Linked DNA regions of Homo sapiens: region 1 is linked to region 2. Evidence: fine-mapped expression QTL. Tissue or cell type: whole blood. Region 2 holds a variant in brackets; the other region holds the start of a gene. All regions are shown on one strand. Distances are between the middles of the regions.

What was found. PIP is the estimated chance that this variant, and not a neighbour inherited with it, causes the effect.
Region 1: CACNA1A starts here. The variant in region 2 is fine-mapped to the expression of CACNA1A in whole blood (TOPMed, PIP above 0.99). The same link has a PIP of 0.9 or more in NK cells, T cells and blood mononuclear cells.

What each region holds. Positions count from the first base shown.
Region 1 is chr19:13,501,540-13,509,539 of GRCh38, reverse strand. CACNA1A (calcium voltage-gated channel subunit alpha1 A) reads left to right here and starts at 3,061. Exons shown (of 47, transcript NM_001127222.2): 1 at 3,061-3,608. The coding sequence starts at 3,316. RefSeq lists an enhancer at 1,493-2,019.
Region 2 is chr19:13,204,369-13,212,608 of GRCh38, reverse strand. CACNA1A (calcium voltage-gated channel subunit alpha1 A) reads left to right here. Exons shown (of 47, transcript NM_001127222.2): 42 at 87-225; 43 at 393-506; 44 at 1,957-1,992; 45 at 3,111-3,297; 46 at 3,600-3,853; 47 at 4,556-6,167. The coding sequence ends at 5,296. Among named protein-coding and RNA genes, the nearest start is that of IER2, 58 kb to the right of the region's middle. RefSeq lists enhancers at 2,893-3,793, 4,100-4,369 and silencers at 3,780-3,969, 4,050-4,099. The variant G/C (reference allele first, on the strand shown) is at 4,109.

The DNA.
Region 1 (8,000 bases), 300 kb before region 2:
CTCGCTTCTTGTTTCATATTAGTTGCTGTTCACCTTTTATATCTGAAACAATGTCAAGTACAAAAATCACTGATATTTGGTGAGCGCCTTAAAAGCCCCTCCTTCTCCCTGAATCCCACACAATTCTATCTCCTTGCAATTCCAATCACTCTTGGTTTAATCATTTCATCCATATCGTGACAAGTTAGAAAATCTTGAAAGTGCTATGGGGCAATGTATAATAGTTGGTGCATTGGCACAGAACGGGGACTTTATATAAAGACATATCATCTTTCCAGAGTGTTCCAAAAGAACTCGAATATTGATATGTGTGTGTGGGGTGGCGAGGGGGGAAGGGAATTAACTAGGATTTAACTAGCTAAGGCTTGAAAGAATATTTGCCTTTTTCATCCTTTTCCCATTCCTCTCCATTTGGCCTTTCTGCGTATACAAGCTCCATGAAAATTCAATGGTTTCTTGGTACATTGAATTTGCAAGACAGTTTGATGACATCTTATAAGCTTGAAGATATGAATACCTTGTGGACCCAGACATTCCACACCTAAGGCTATTCCTAGAGACATGCATTCTTATCTGCACCAAAGGTACCTGAGGCAGTAATGTTTAATAGCCCCAACTGGAAAAAAAACAGATACCCATCAACAAGATGATGGATAAACAAATTGTGGCATATTCTCTTGATGAAATACTATACAGCAGTGAAAGTGAATGAATCACAGCCATGTGTGACAACAAACAGGTGAATTTTTCTAAAATTCGAAACAGATTAGGATGTATGAATCTTGTTTTTTTTGTTTGTTTGTTTTTGTTTTGTTTTGTTTTGTTTGACAGAGTCTCACTTTGTTGCCCAGGCTGGAGGGCAGTGGTTTGATCTTGGCTCACTGCAACATCCTGGACTCAAGGGATCTTCCCATCTCAGCCTCCTAAGTAGCTGGGACTAGGTTCACATCACCATGCCTGGTTAATTTTTATTTTAAAAAAGGTTTTTGGAGAGACAGGGTCTTGCTATATTGCCCAGGCTTGTCTCAAACCCCTGGCCTCAAGCAATCCTCATGCTCTGCCTCCCAAAGTGCTGGGATTACAGGCGCAGACACCGTGCCCTGCCAGATGAATCTTAAAGACATAATGTTGAACCGAAGAAACAAGAAACTGTAGAATATATACTATATGATTATTCCATTTATATAAAAGCCCAAAAGAAGCAAAGTAAAATTGTATTGGTTAGGAACGCATAATAAGGTAGTCAAACTTTTTTTAAAAAAGCAAGATATGAATACCATAAAGTCAGGTAGCGATTATTGCTGGAATAAGGGGCTGTGTAAGCGTGTTGGCAAAGGGGGTTCTGCAGAGGTGGTGATGTTCCATTTCTAGCCCTAGACTTGATTTCATGAGTGTTCATTTCAGACCAATTTCTTAACTCCGTACCTTTATGTTTTATGCATTTTTCTTTGTGCTTATTGAATTTCACCACACAAAAAGCAGAATGGGAAGTAATCAAAGTGGTTCTGGAGAGACGTGAGTATCAAGCAAACTATACCACCCAGAACCCCTATCCAGCCAACTAGGACCTGGTTAATTATTTCCTCCTGGGAGTTCAGACTTGTCACCTCTGGGGTCTCCAAGGTAGAATAAACCTTTAATTCCAACTTGCAGGAGTCCTTGTGATTTGAAACGTTCACAGAAGTAACCCCAAACCACTCTCTCCACTTTCAAAAATGGTCTTTTGCTAAACAGAGCAAATTTGTTTAGAGACTGACGAATCGCACCTCTAGACACAAATCCCCTTCTCTTTTCTGTCTTTTAAGTTTTTTTCCTGCCTCCATCCTGCCTTCTCCTTGCAAGATGCTGGGGAGCGTCCGGCTGTCTGCAACCGAAATGGAACGGGGTGGAAAACAGGCTTTCCTCCCAGGGGAGGAGGAAGCACCCCAATTCCCCCCTCCCTGCCTCCCAACCATGCGACGCTCCCCTCTCTCCCCCACAAACTCCGCTGAGCCCGGTACCCCCGCGCCTCCACGAGCCTCCACGATTGGTCGCGGGCCCTCATGTGTCGACACTCTGGGTGGGTCCTTCTACTGTTAAACTCATCAATTGCTCCCCTTTTCCGTTTGCTGGCCAGTGGTTCAGACCTTTGCGCCCATTTTTTTTTCCTCTTTACCTTCTTCTACCCGCAACCCTCCACACCAGTCTTATTTTAGCAAAACCTAGAGAAGGAGGAGGTGGAGGGATTTGGAGGGTGGAGAGGCATTGCCGCATCCAGGGGCAGCTATTGAGTGGCTAAGCGGAGGGCGCATACCTCTCTCTCTCTCTCTTTTCCCCCTGTTGGGAATTTTCAGGATTTCACTGCTGCAATTTAACCCCAAGATGAGGCACCATTGAGCGAAACGCTGTGCGCACATACACACTCACACTTCCTCCGGGAGCAGAAGAGGCAGCCGTTGGTGATTCAGGAAGAAAAAAAATTTTTTTTTTTTTTTTTAAACCTGGACCCTGCGGTGTGAAGACTCCTTAGGAACCCTCTGGAGCGTCTTACTCCCCTTCCCTCCTCTTTCCCTTCCCTTTCATCTTCTTTGTTTTTATTTTATTTTATTTTTGGAGCTACAGATCTTTCAGCATTTTTAAGGTCTAGGAACTCCAGCAAAACAGAAGGGCACTTAATTTTTTTTTTTTTTTTTTTTGCCCTCCCCACCCAGACCTGGGTTTCGTCTTTCTTTATTTTTAAATATATATATATTTTTTTATTTTTTATTTTTTATTTTTTTTTAATGGGCCGAGCGCACTCCTTTTGCAAGATGCCAGCCTGACCCGGACCTCGGAGGAATTTGAAGCTTCCACTGCGTCCCGGGGGGGGCGTCCTTTGCAAACCGTTCGCGTCTTAAAGGGGGTGTGCGTTGGGTGGATTTTTTTTTTTTAACTGTCTCTTTTTTTTTTTTTCCGGAGTGGGTGGACTGGGGATTGCCTGGATTCCTTCCTCGGTTATTTTTTGCCTCGCTTCTCTCTCCCCTCCCCCCTCCTCCCCGGGCCCCCGCGCCCCGCCCCCGCACCCTCCTCCCGCCCCTCCTTCTCCGGGGTCAGCCAGGAAGATGTCCCGAGCTGCTATCCCCGGCTCGGCCCGGGCAGCCGCCTTCTGAGCCCCCGACCCGAGGCGCCGAGCCGCCGCCGCCCGATGGGCTGGGCCGTGGAGCGTCTCCGCAGTCGTAGCTCCAGCCGCCGCGCTCCCAGCCCCGGCAGCCTCAGCATCAGCGGCGGCGGCGGCGGCGGCGGCGTCTTCCGCATCGTTCGCCGCAGCGTAACCCGGAGCCCTTTGCTCTTTGCAGAATGGCCCGCTTCGGAGACGAGATGCCGGCCCGCTACGGGGGAGGAGGCTCCGGGGCAGCCGCCGGGGTGGTCGTGGGCAGCGGAGGCGGGCGAGGAGCCGGGGGCAGCCGGCAGGGCGGGCAGCCCGGGGCGCAAAGGATGTACAAGCAGTCAATGGCGCAGAGAGCGCGGACCATGGCACTCTACAACCCCATCCCCGTCCGACAGAACTGCCTCACGGTTAACCGGTCTCTCTTCCTCTTCAGCGAAGACAACGTGGTGAGAAAATACGCCAAAAAGATCACCGAATGGCCATATCCTTTTGCCCGAACCCCAGCAGCAGCTGCGCCTCCCCCTCCTCCCTCCGCCTCCCCTCTTCCAGGCTGGGAGAGAGACCCGGGGGTTGATGGGAGGTGGGGAGGAGGGGGGTCTTCCAGGGGCTGGGAGAGGGGGCACCGGGAGGAGTGTGAAAGAATCTCTCCACCCCGAGCTGGGTTGAGCTACCCTGGAGGCTTGGGAATGGGTTTGTGGGGGGCTGGGGGGTGGGCAGCGGAGAGTGGATCCTTCCCAAGGACCGACTCTAGAATGAGATCTGGGGCCTGGGGTCGTGCAGGAGCCTTGGTGGGGGCTTTCGAGCCAAGTCCGGAGGGTTTGGAGTTCTACGGAGTGAGCTTGGAGCGGGCTCGGGCCTGGGCGCTTCTGGCCAGGGCAGGGGAACTATGGGGGCCTTGGTTGGGTTTTCTTGGCCGTCGCTCACTGGAGTCCACGCAGGGGAAGCTGGACAGCCTCTCCACTACTGCTTTCCCCAAGGTGGGGGGCCGCCGCACTTTTAGGGCAGGGCGCTTGGGGGCTCCCAGGGCTAAGAGCAAGAGGGAGTCCATGTGGCCTTCACACTGAGAAGCCAGCACTGGCCGAAGTGAGTACCCCAGGGTGGGCCGCTGTTCCTATCTGGAGAGGATAGTGATGGGCTGGGGGGCGCTTATGTTTCCCTCATGTGTGCAGGTCCCATTGCCTTTAACCGCTGATTGGGGAACCTCATCATCTTTGGGGGTGTCGAGAAAGAGATCCCACTTGCTTTATCTGGGCCCCTGGCCTGGGAAGACCTGATCTGGACACTTTCAGTAAGAAAGACAGGGCAACAGCAAATGAGGTGGTGGGTCCATTTTAGAGCACCATGTCCAGCTTTTCCTACCCCGAGTAGCCGAGAGGGAACACCAGGAGAATCAGCACCCATGTGGACATCTTAGGTAGGTAAATGCCTTTTAAATTTTTTTTTTTTTAATCAAAGATCCAGAGGAAAAAGGTGAAGCCCACATTTTCTTCTGTGGAGATGCTATCAAAATGCAGATCTTCTGTGTTTCTTTAAATCCCTGCCTGCTTGAAATAAACCTTGAGGAGGGCTTAACATCTATCGAGATGTAGGCAGGCAAGGGTGGGTAATTAGTCGGGCTTTCTAGCAGTTATCTAAGCATGACCCAGATTCCAGGAGGGGGGACACACCCTGCTGCCCAGGCTGGCTGGCCACTGTGCCATGCCCAGATGTGCCGCTTCTCCGCACAGTTCCAACCAGCTGCCCTCTGTGTAAAAATGAACGGGCTGGATGGGTCCCTGGGGCTCAGCGATGAGTCCCCTATCCCTTTTGTATGTGGTTTTGCAGTTATAGACTAAACGGGGCTGGGCCCTGTGTGGTCTCCGGGGGTTGCTGTTTGAGGAGCATGGCGGGTGGTAGAGGGACTCACTTCAGGGGGGTTCAAAATCGAGCCTGGCGCTTGGATCCTGGGTGCTGGGATTGCAACAGAGGGCACTGAGGTTTTGGAGTGTGTGAGTGGTCTACTTTGAGGGTGGGGAAAATTAAGAAGTTCAGCAGAGGTGCTTTTGAGGGGAGCATACCTCTAACTACGATGCCATCTCCGTTGGTGCCCAAAGCAGGTGCCAGGTCTTTGCTTCCTAAGTTTCAGACTCTTAAAGAGGCTGGTTCTTAAGGTTAGCAATTCCTCACCATCCCAGGCCCATTGAAGTGCTCAGGGGTGGCTTGATTACTCTGCCTATCAACAGAGTGAGGAGTGGGAGTGCCTTGCAGGAGGACAGGGTATTCATGGGTGCACACCCAGTTAGCTCCAGGAGTGAGAGGGCTTTGCTCGGCTGACAGGTTTCCTCATTGAAAATGGCTTTAGATCGCCTTCTGGAGCCTGGATTTGGAGACTTCTAAGAGGAAAGGAAGGAGGTGGGGAGCCCTTCTGCTGTGTCCTTAGCTTACCTCTGTCCAGCCTGAATCCTGCAGATTGGAGGGCTGTTGGGGGAGAGGGGGATTGCAGTGGCCCCTCGGAAGGGGGAATCGTGGGAGAGGGAGGCAGGTGAATTGCGAGTGTTGCTTGCCACTTCATCTATTCTCTGGCCAGCTCGCCCGGGGCTTTCTTGCTCTTATGATGAGTTTGTGCATTATGCTCTCTGCAGACTGTTTTTGTTCTCTTTGACCCGAGGTAACAAACACATTATACAGCCCTACTCTGGAAGGGAAAACTCCCCACCTCACAATCTGTCATCGAGCTGGGTCATCCAGGACTGAGCTTTCTCTGTCCTGGATGGAGCGGAGGGCGGTGGCGGGGTGGGTGGGAGGGTTGGAGATGAGAGGGGATGGACAGAGACCTGGGGAGGGAGGTAGTGAATAAAAGAATTCAGGCCAGTGTAAAGAGAAAGACACGTGGAATGTCAGAGTCACGATACCAGGGCAGAACATTCTACTTTTTAATCTAAATATTTCTGCCATTAAAAAAAAATGTTTCAGCATATCCTGAGAGTGAAAAAAAAAGTGTGTAGGTACTTAAATAAAGTCTAATATATGTACAGGCAAGTACATATATTCAGATGCATAGATTTTTACAAAATGAACACACCCACGTATCCAGCACCCAGGTCCCGATCAGTGCCCTGGAAGTCCCCCTCCCCATACCGCCTCCTAGTTGCTCCCCCAACAAGGGTACCGCTCACCTGACTTCTAAGGTTCATTTTGCCTCTTTTAAACATGTAAATGGAGTCACACAGTACGTTCTTTTGCCACTGGCTTCTTTTGCTCACATCTGTGTATGTGACTCTACTACAATCTATCCATTCTACTGTTGATGGGCATTTGTGTCATTTCTGTTTGTGCCACTGGGAACATTCTTGTGTCTTCTATTATTTTTTTCCCACAGTTCTCTTAGATAGGAGTGGAATCGCCCCTGCTACTTTTTGATGCATGTGTTGTGGGATGTGTATTTGGAAATGGTGTTGACTAAGGGTTGCAGGTCGATATGGAAAGCAGGTTCCTCCCTGTCTTGTTTAAGAGAAGTGAGTGAATGATCCATGAACTTGTCGGTATGCTCACAGGGCCTAAGAGTGCTACTTCCAAATGTAAATTCTGGCATGGTACACTGGTGAAGGATGCAGTCTTGCTTTCTCCACACTCGGGGCAATTTGTCACTATGATTTCTTCCTCTTTCATCCCTCAGTGGGTCAAACTTGAAGCCATCAATGACAATTAAGAATCCTCATTTATTTCATTTTTTCCCCTCTTCCTAAGTGAGGAAACCCAAATGGAAGTCTTTGATGTTCAAATTTACATTGCCGTGTTTTTCTCATGCCAGGCAGCAAGCCGTCTTGACCACACACCTTGGTTTCATGTTTTCATTGACTGGAATTGTGATTCAAATAGGGCCATGAGGGTCTCTGATGATTGCCGAAGAGCTCAGATCTGTCAGCTCAAAAAGGAGCATCTGTCAGCCTTCCTAGAGTTCCCTCCCCACTTAATGCCACTCACTCCTTCTACCAAGTGCCAAGGTGAATGTCATCTTTCCAGCCCTCCCTGTGCCACCAGGTCTCCCACTGAACATGATGTAGAAACTCAGGCCATCGGAGGAACACTGGAAGCAGGTCAGTGTATTATCACGCACAGTTGCCTGAATTACACGTAGAATTCCAGCTTTTCATCCGGTTTGCAGAAATCTTAACAAGACACCTAAAGTCACATTGACATCAGGTGACATCACTTTGACATCTGTGGACATTGGCTGATTGGCACTCCTCTCATTTTTTTTTTTTTTTTTTTTTTTAAGAAAAGCTCTCTAAAGAGAAACTTTCTGCATGAGAAGCGCTGGGAGACATGGGAGCAGGTTATCAGACTCTTGGCCTGTCCTGAGAGATAGAATGTTCTAGAAGGTACTGCCGTAGAGGGCAGGATGGTGTCACTTACGTGATCCTTGTACTAGACCGGCTTGGCTGGTATTTCCAGAGGAGCAAAATTCTGCGAAGTAAAATTTAGCACGGCTTTTCCAATGGGAGTATTTTCAAAAAGGGTGCAATTTCTTATCCACAATTCCCCAATCCAAAAAGCTCCAAAAACCAAAAGACGAGCTCATATAGAGGTAAAACCTAACCTGAACTGACTTCAGTTTGAAGTCTTAATTTACAGTTTTCATTCATTCTACTTGGTGTGCATTTGAGTATGTTTTGCAGCAGAAATGTTAGATGTGCTTGATGATGAGGTGCTGCTTCAGCTCCTGACTGTTAGGTCTGCATTGTAGTCCTGTCAAACTTTCAGGTGTATGGAAGTTGTCTTGTTAACAGGATGGTTCTGGTCCAGCAGGATTTGGGTGGGGTCTGGGATTCTGCTTTTCTAGCTAGCTTCTAGGGATTCCCCATGTGGTAAGTTCATGGGCTAGGGTTGGAGT
Region 2 (8,240 bases):
AGGTGGAGTGTGGGGGTGCCGTGGTCCCCACGTTCTGGAAGCTGCCCAAGCGCCCACTGCTACCCCGGCCTCTGTCCCCCATGCAGGATGGCTCACGAAAGCGGCCTCAAGGAGAGCCCGTCCTGGGTGACCCAGCGTGCCCAGGAGATGTTCCAGAAGACGGGCACATGGAGTCCGGAACAAGGCCCCCCTACCGACATGCCCAACAGCCAGCCTAACTCTCAGGTGCCTCTGTCCCCCAACTCCCCAATGGCTCCCAGGGCCCGGGTGGTTCAGGTGGAAGGGATCTGGGCCCCCCACACACACACACCTGCAGCTCCCTCCCTCTGCAGACACCAGGGATCTGGAGGTCAGGCCCCAGAGCTCATCTGGCTTTGCCATCTGCTCCGCAGTCCGTGGAGATGCGAGAGATGGGCAGAGATGGCTACTCCGACAGCGAGCACTACCTCCCCATGGAAGGCCAGGGCCGGGCTGCCTCCATGCCCCGCCTCCCTGCAGAGAACCAGGTGAGGGCTTTCACCACTGCCCTGGGGCTGGACCCCTCACTCTGCACTGGGTAGGGCCAGGCCCCCCCACAAGCAGCCCAGTGCATCCCCTCCCTGCCGGACTCAGGCCTGGGTAGGGACTCCTTCAGTCTCTGAAGCAGTCTGCAGGCCCCACCCACCACCTGGTCACACCTGGAGCACCTGCAGACCCTCCTCCCTCACAGAGGACAGAGAGGAAAGTGCTCCCCCTGGGGCAGAGGGCAGTGGCCACTGCAAAATGGTCTCTGGCTGCCCTGGTTGGAGGCTGCAGACAGGGGAGGTTGTGGAAGATTTGTGGGTGCAGCAGGGTTCAACAGGGCCAGCTGAGACCTGCCACGAAGATCACCCCTACACAAACACACACACACATGCTCAACATACATGCACACACATGTGCAGCTGTGCGCCTACTCAGATGCTTGCATACACACACGTGTGTGCACGTGGGCATATACACACTGCACATGTACTCACACATGCACACATGTACGTGCACACGTGTCTGCATATGGGAACTTGGCAGGTCCTAGGATACAGTAGCAGAGTCTGGGGTGGGTCTGGGGGCAGCTGGGCTCGTATTTTCTGTCTGGTCTCTGTGGGAGTCATTGGGGGGCACAGGGGTGTGTGCTTGATGTGTGTCTGTGTGTGGCCGCTTCACCCAGCTGCCAGGCCCACCTGCAGGTGATCCCGTTGCCTTGGACTCATGGGACAGAGGGCCCAGAGGCATAGCTGGCTGCCCACCCGGCCTGAACAGCGGGGGCCCATGCACGCAGCCCGCCTCTGGAGGAGAACAGGGCATGGCTGTGAGAGCCTGGCCCGGGTGCGTGGCATGTGTGGCTGTGGCGAGCTTTCCGTGTGCCGTGTGTGGCGTCTGCACGGGGCAGGAGGCTGTGCTGTGCCTGGCTGGACCAGGGTCACCTGAGGGCCTGGCCTCTGGCTGCTGGGAACGTGGGTTGGGGAGCACCCAGCGTGCATGCTGCTGCTCCCTCAGGACCGAGCTGCTGGGCCCCAGGAGAGGGTTGGGACAAGCCCAGCTGACGGCCACCACATGGAAGCTTTGAGCATCGGCCGGAGCCAGGGGTTGGGGTGTGCATCGCATGAGGCAGAGCCCAGGGCCAGGGGCTCGAGGCTGCGCCGTCCTGTCTTTCGGTCCCATGCCTCTGCCATTTGTCTGTCTGCATCTCCTGTCTGTCTCCTCTGTACCCATGGGAATAGAGGACGCCCAGCCCCGGGGGCCTGGGACACCCACCCGCCAGGACTTTAACTTTTCTTTTCCTCCCTGCCTTCTCCCTCCGATTTCTCTTGATGCCAGTGCCACTCCCCTCCTTGGCTTCTTCTCCATGCACCACCTCCTCACTCTCCCTCTTGCCTTTTATATTTATTTTCTTCTTTCTGTTTTTTCTGTGTGCACCATCCCATGGGGCTGTGACAGAGGAGAAGGGGCCGGCCACGTGGGAATAACCTCAGTGTATGTACCGCGCCTGCCCAGCGCCCAGCAGGGCTCCGGCCCCCTCTTCCTCCCCACCCCCCCTCCAGGGAGTCCCGTCATCTCTCACCGTCCCCGGACCCCACCCTTTCTTTGGCAATCGCACCCTCTCCCCTCCATGGAGCCCAATCCTTGTGTGTGGTGTCCTGTGTGTGCCCCTCACCCATAAGCCCTGGTGGGCGGGGCCATCCCCATCCTCACCCCTACCCCCTTTTCTTCAGGGCCCCCCACGCCGGAGGACACTGGCTCTCCAAGAGCCTGGCCCACTCTGCACCTCTTTCTGGGGGGCTTCTTCTCCTGACACCACCACCAACCCCTGGTCCTGCAGCTCCTACCTGGAGCAGGGCCACCAGCGCTCAGCTGGGCTGGACCCTGGGAGGCGGGCGTCTGCCCCATCTCCCTCCTTCCCTCCTCTGCCTGCTGCAGAGAAACCTGTGTGTCAGGGCTTGACCCAGGGATGAAGCACCAGGGAAAAGAGTGGGCCCCCAGAGCCTCCAGTGCCTGGGTATCCCCCACCCCCACCCAGAGCTCCCTAGCTTGGGCCTCACCAGAAGGACTCAGACTTGTGGGGGCAGCGAGCACAGCCCCGTTAGCCGGGAGGACCCAAAGCTGCCATGCCGGGCACCTGGTCCTGAGCCCATAGGTCAGCCAGCCACAGTCGGAGGCTTCTCACCCTCCCAGGAGAGCAAGCTGGGGCAGGGATGAGTGCGGCAGTCCAGGGCTCCCAGGTTTGCACCCTGGATGTGGAGAGGGCTTCCCTCTGGCCAGCCTGAGCCTGCCCAACTGTGGCTGGGCCCCCAGGACTGGAGAGTGAGGATCAGATCTTTCTGGTCAGAACCCAGGATGGGCTCAAAAGGAGCAGTCCTGTCTCTGAGGGACAGAGGAATCCTCAGGCTCCACCCTCAGAGGCCTGGCCACACCCAGAGCCCTGATTGATCAGGGGGAGCCAAGGCCCCATGGCATCCCCTGGCCCCTGCCCCAGGATGGTCACACCGCAGTCACCGAAGGCCACCACCAGGCTGCCACAATGGGGCAGGAAGGACCGGGACCACTTGGTGCTAGCTGCTGACCCCAGCCCACCGGCCTGTCCCCTCCCCCAGACCATCTCAGACACCAGCCCCATGAAGCGTTCAGCCTCCGTGCTGGGCCCCAAGGCCCGACGCCTGGACGATTACTCGCTGGAGCGGGTCCCGCCCGAGGAGAACCAGCGGCACCACCAGCGGCGCCGCGACCGCAGCCACCGCGCCTCTGAGCGCTCCCTGGGCCGCTACACCGATGTGGACACAGGTGGGCAGCCCTGTGGTGCTCAGGGACAAGCAGAACAGAGGAGAGGAGAGGGGAGGAGAAGGCAGGGCGGAGGAGACACTAAGGAAGAAGAAAGGGAGAGGCCTCCATGGAGAGGGGACAGAGGGGGCCAGGCAGCAGCTGCAGGAACCTGGGTACTACCCCCTCCCCCCAACCCACTGACCTGCCTCGGTTCAGGGGATCTCTAGGGCCCCCACACCTTCCAGGTGGCCTCCTGTGTGTGCATCTGCCCCACCTCTCCCTCACGACCACCTGTGTGTCTGTCTGACCCTCACCCGGCCCAGGCTTGGGGACAGACCTGAGCATGACCACCCAATCCGGGGACCTGCCGTCGAAGGAGCGGGACCAGGAGCGGGGCCGGCCCAAGGATCGGAAGCATCGACAGCACCACCACCACCACCACCACCACCACCATCCCCCGCCCCCCGACAAGGACCGCTATGCCCAGGAACGGCCGGACCACGGCCGGGCACGGGCTCGGGACCAGCGCTGGTCCCGCTCGCCCAGCGAGGGCCGAGAGCACATGGCGCACCGGCAGGTGGGTGCGGCTGCAAGTGACCCCAGGCTGGGCTCGGCCGGGAGGCGGGGAGGAGAGAAGGGGATACCCCATCCAACAGCCACTCTAGGCAAAGGTCCCCGGATCCCGGCTGTGACCACCTCCCATCCTGCCCCCAAGCCACCGGGGTGCCCGGCGGCCGGAGCGGACACGGATCCCCACCACACCAGCTGCCTATGCTGTCCCCCCAGCCCCCTTGCCCACCCGCCGCCCCCTCCCCGCCGCCCGCAGCTGCTT[G/C]CTCCTCGGTTGTGGATCATATTTGAGTTCTGGGCCGTGCCGCCCGACCTTTCACTTTCCTTTAACCCGGCTTCTGTTTTTGTTTCAATTATGATTTCTGTCCTCTGGACGCCTGTGAGTAATTTTTGAAACTTCTGCTATTTTTAACCCCGAAACTTACAAAACTCCATTTCTCATTTCTCTTTTCACTTTGTTGTGTTGGTTTTCGACTCCTCCCCTCCCTGTCTCACTCCCCCTCCTCCCCTCCCTCCTCCCTGTGGCTGTTGCTTTTTTCCATTCAATGTCCTGTGTCCCCCCTCTCCTCCTCCTCCTCCTCCTCCCCCTCCCCCTCCTCCCTCTCCTCCCGGCCCCTCTCCCTTCGCTCCCCTCTCTTCCTCCCAATCCCGTGTCTCCTTTGATTTTGTTGTATCTTTTTTTTTGATTTCCTTTGTTTCAATTTTCGTGTAGGGCAGTAGTTCCGTAAGTGGAAGCCCAGCCCCCTCAACATCTGGTACCAGCACTCCGCGGCGGGGCCGCCGCCAGCTCCCCCAGACCCCCTCCACCCCCCGGCCACACGTGTCCTATTCCCCTGTGATCCGTAAGGCCGGCGGCTCGGGGCCCCCGCAGCAGCAGCAGCAGCAGCAGCAGCAGCAGCAGCAGCAGGCGGTGGCCAGGCCGGGCCGGGCGGCCACCAGCGGCCCTCGGAGGTACCCAGGCCCCACGGCCGAGCCTCTGGCCGGAGATCGGCCGCCCACGGGGGGCCACAGCAGCGGCCGCTCGCCCAGGATGGAGAGGCGGGTCCCAGGCCCGGCCCGGAGCGAGTCCCCCAGGGCCTGTCGACACGGCGGGGCCCGGTGGCCGGCATCTGGCCCGCACGTGTCCGAGGGGCCCCCGGGTCCCCGGCACCATGGCTACTACCGGGGCTCCGACTACGACGAGGCCGATGGCCCGGGCAGCGGGGGCGGCGAGGAGGCCATGGCCGGGGCCTACGACGCGCCACCCCCCGTACGACACGCGTCCTCGGGCGCCACCGGGCGCTCGCCCAGGACTCCCCGGGCCTCGGGCCCGGCCTGCGCCTCGCCTTCTCGGCACGGCCGGCGACTCCCCAACGGCTACTACCCGGCGCACGGACTGGCCAGGCCCCGCGGGCCGGGCTCCAGGAAGGGCCTGCACGAACCCTACAGCGAGAGTGACGATGATTGGTGCTAAGCCCGGGCGAGGTGGCGCCCGCCCGGCCCCCCACGCACCCCACGCACACACCCCACCCGAGGAGCCGCGCAGAGGCCGCGGGGGCCCAGCACAGAGGGCCCGGGAGAGGGCCAGCCGGGAGACCCCAGACTCTGGAGAGGCCAGGGCTGGGCCACAAGGGTGTCCCGCAGAGACCCTCGGCCAAAAGAGACCCTCCTGGGCAGCCACGGCGCCCCCCAACCAGCCCCGATCCCCCCACCCACGACAGGGGCTCTCGGGTGGGAGGCAGGGAGCAGACAAACCACACAGCCAAGGGATTTGAATTAACTCAGCCATTTTTGGAGAACTTTGGGGAACATGAAAAAAAAAAAAAAAAAAAAAAAAAAAAACATTTTTAAAAGAAAAAACGGGGAGAAAAAAATAGCTTCTATTGATGAGTTTTATCATCTCAATTGAATCTTTCCTTTCCCTGATGAAGACAGCTGGTGGCCGAGTGCGGCAAAGAAGCCAGAAGGAACCAGAATCCCAGTGCCCTACACCCACCACCAGACACACTCACACCCACACACGTTCTCAGACACACACAAGAGTGCTTGCCGGTTATACCAAACCCTACTATTACTGCCTGCAGAAATCAATTTAAAAAAATAATAATAACAATAAACAATTTTAAAAAGGACAAAAAAATTAATGATTGAGAAAAGAGGCATTTTTTTCTGACATTTGGTCCTGCTTGAAACAACAAAAGAAGAAGAAAAACCCACCATCACCACCGATTCCTTTGCTTCTTTTTTCCTTTTTTCCTACCTTGTTTGAAAACCGTGGGCTTGGGACTGTGAATTATTGCATGACATTCAAAAAGAAAAAAAAAATAAAAAAAAGTTGAATCAAAGGGCTTTTGGATAGGAGTGGTCTTTGTCCCTTGGCTAGGTGCTGCCTGGGTGGGTCTCTCTTGGGGAATCATACAAAGAGGCACTTCTTTGTTAGCTCCTAGAAGCACTGTTTGAAAGCGACAAGGAGGCCGGGCATCATGCACGCCTGTAATCCCAGCACTTTGGGAGGCTAAGGCAGATGGATCACTTGAGGTCAGGAGTTCGAGACCAGCCCGACCAACATGGCAAAACCTCATCTCTACTAAAAATACAAAAAAAATTAGCCATGCGTGGTTGCACAAACTGTAATCCCAGCTACTCCGGAGGCTGAGGCATGAGAATCACCTGAGCCTGAGAGGCGGAGGTTAGCAGTGAGCCAAGATCCCACCACTGCACTCCAGCCTGAGTGACGGAATGAGACTCTTGTCTCAAAATAAAAAAAAAAAAGGCAGGGCGCGGTGGCTCACGCCTATAATCCCAGCACTTTGGGAGGCCGAGGTGGGTGGATCACATGAGGTCAGGAGTTCACAACCAGCCTGGCCAACATAGTGAAACGCCGTCTTTACTACAAATACAAAAATTAGCCACGCGTGGTGGTGGGTGCCTGTAATCCCAGCTACTCGGGAAGCTGAGGCAGGAGAATTGCTTGAACCCAGGAGGCGGAGGTTGCAGTGAACCAAGATCGTGCCACTGCACTCCAACCTGGGTGACAGAGCAAGACTCCATCTTAGATAATTAATAATAATAATTTGGTCTCGTGGACACCAACCCCCGCCCCCACGAAGTGTTTCAGCCATCCCCAGAGTCCAATACCCCTTTGAGAGCTTCTGTTCTCACAACAGTACCTGACCCATAGCAAGCTACTATTGACTATCACCATTACTACTGTAGCATTAAGGCAAACATTTTGAACAGGTCTTGTTCCAGACAACAGGCCCTGCTTGAGCTTACCTTGGGTAAGAAATCTGCAGACTCCAGATAGCAAGACAGGTGTAAGTCCTTCTAAAATAATGGTAAGCCAAATGTGGTGGCACACACCTGTAGTCCCAGCTGTTCAGGAGGCTGAGGCAGGAGGATCACTTGAGCCCACGAGGTCAAGACCAGCTATGATCACACCTGTGAATAACCATTGCATTCCAGCCTGGGTGACGTAGAAAGATCCCATCTCTAAAAAAATTAAAAGTAAAAATAAATAAATAAAATAATGGCATCTAGGAAAAGATCAGTCCAACGAGAAGTCAAAGTTTTGAGGTCGAGTGCGGTGTCTGACTCTTGTAATCTCAACACTTTGGGAGAATCACTTGAGGCCAGTAGTTCAAGACCAGCCTGGGCAACATAGCAAGACGCTGTCTCTAAAAAAAAAAGTTTGTTTTTTTTAAGGCTGGGTACAGAGGCTCACGCCTGTAATCCCAGCACTTTGGGAGGCCAAGGTGAGCAGATCACCAAGTCAGGAGTTTGAGACCAGCCTGGCCAACATAGTGAAACCCTGTCTCTACTAAAAATAAAAAAATTAGCCAGGTGTGGTGGTGCATGCCTATATTCCCAGATACTTGGCAGGCTGAGGCAGGAAAATCGCTTGAACCTGGGAGGCAGAGGTTGCAGTGAGCTGAGATTGCGTCACTGCACTGCAGCCTGGGCGACAGAGTGAGACTACGTCTCAAAAAAAAAAAAAAAAAAAAATGGAATGGAAGGGAGGGAGGGAGGGGTTTAACTTTCTAACCAGGCAATCTGGCAACCACCACAGGCTTCTAAACAAGCTGCCCATCCATTGCAGAGCTGGCCTCTGGTCCCCCTCCCATGGTGCTGGGGTTGAGTGTGTCCAGGAGCCACTGGAGTAAGCCAGGGTTTGTGCAATTCCCTCTGCTGTCAATGAGGCTGCAGCCATCTGTCCTCCCAGGAATGAAGTTCACTACCGAAGCCCCCCATGAGCCCTGAACTCAAAGGCCAAGTCTATGCCCGAGTGCCAAGAGGTAGACCCAAGGCCTCCACAGTGCACATCATCAGGCTAGAGTGTTAGTTGCCCAGGAGACACAGGGTGGGAAGATCAGGGGATGAGGAAGAGGGGCGGAGCTTGGCCTAGTCCCCAGTCTCAC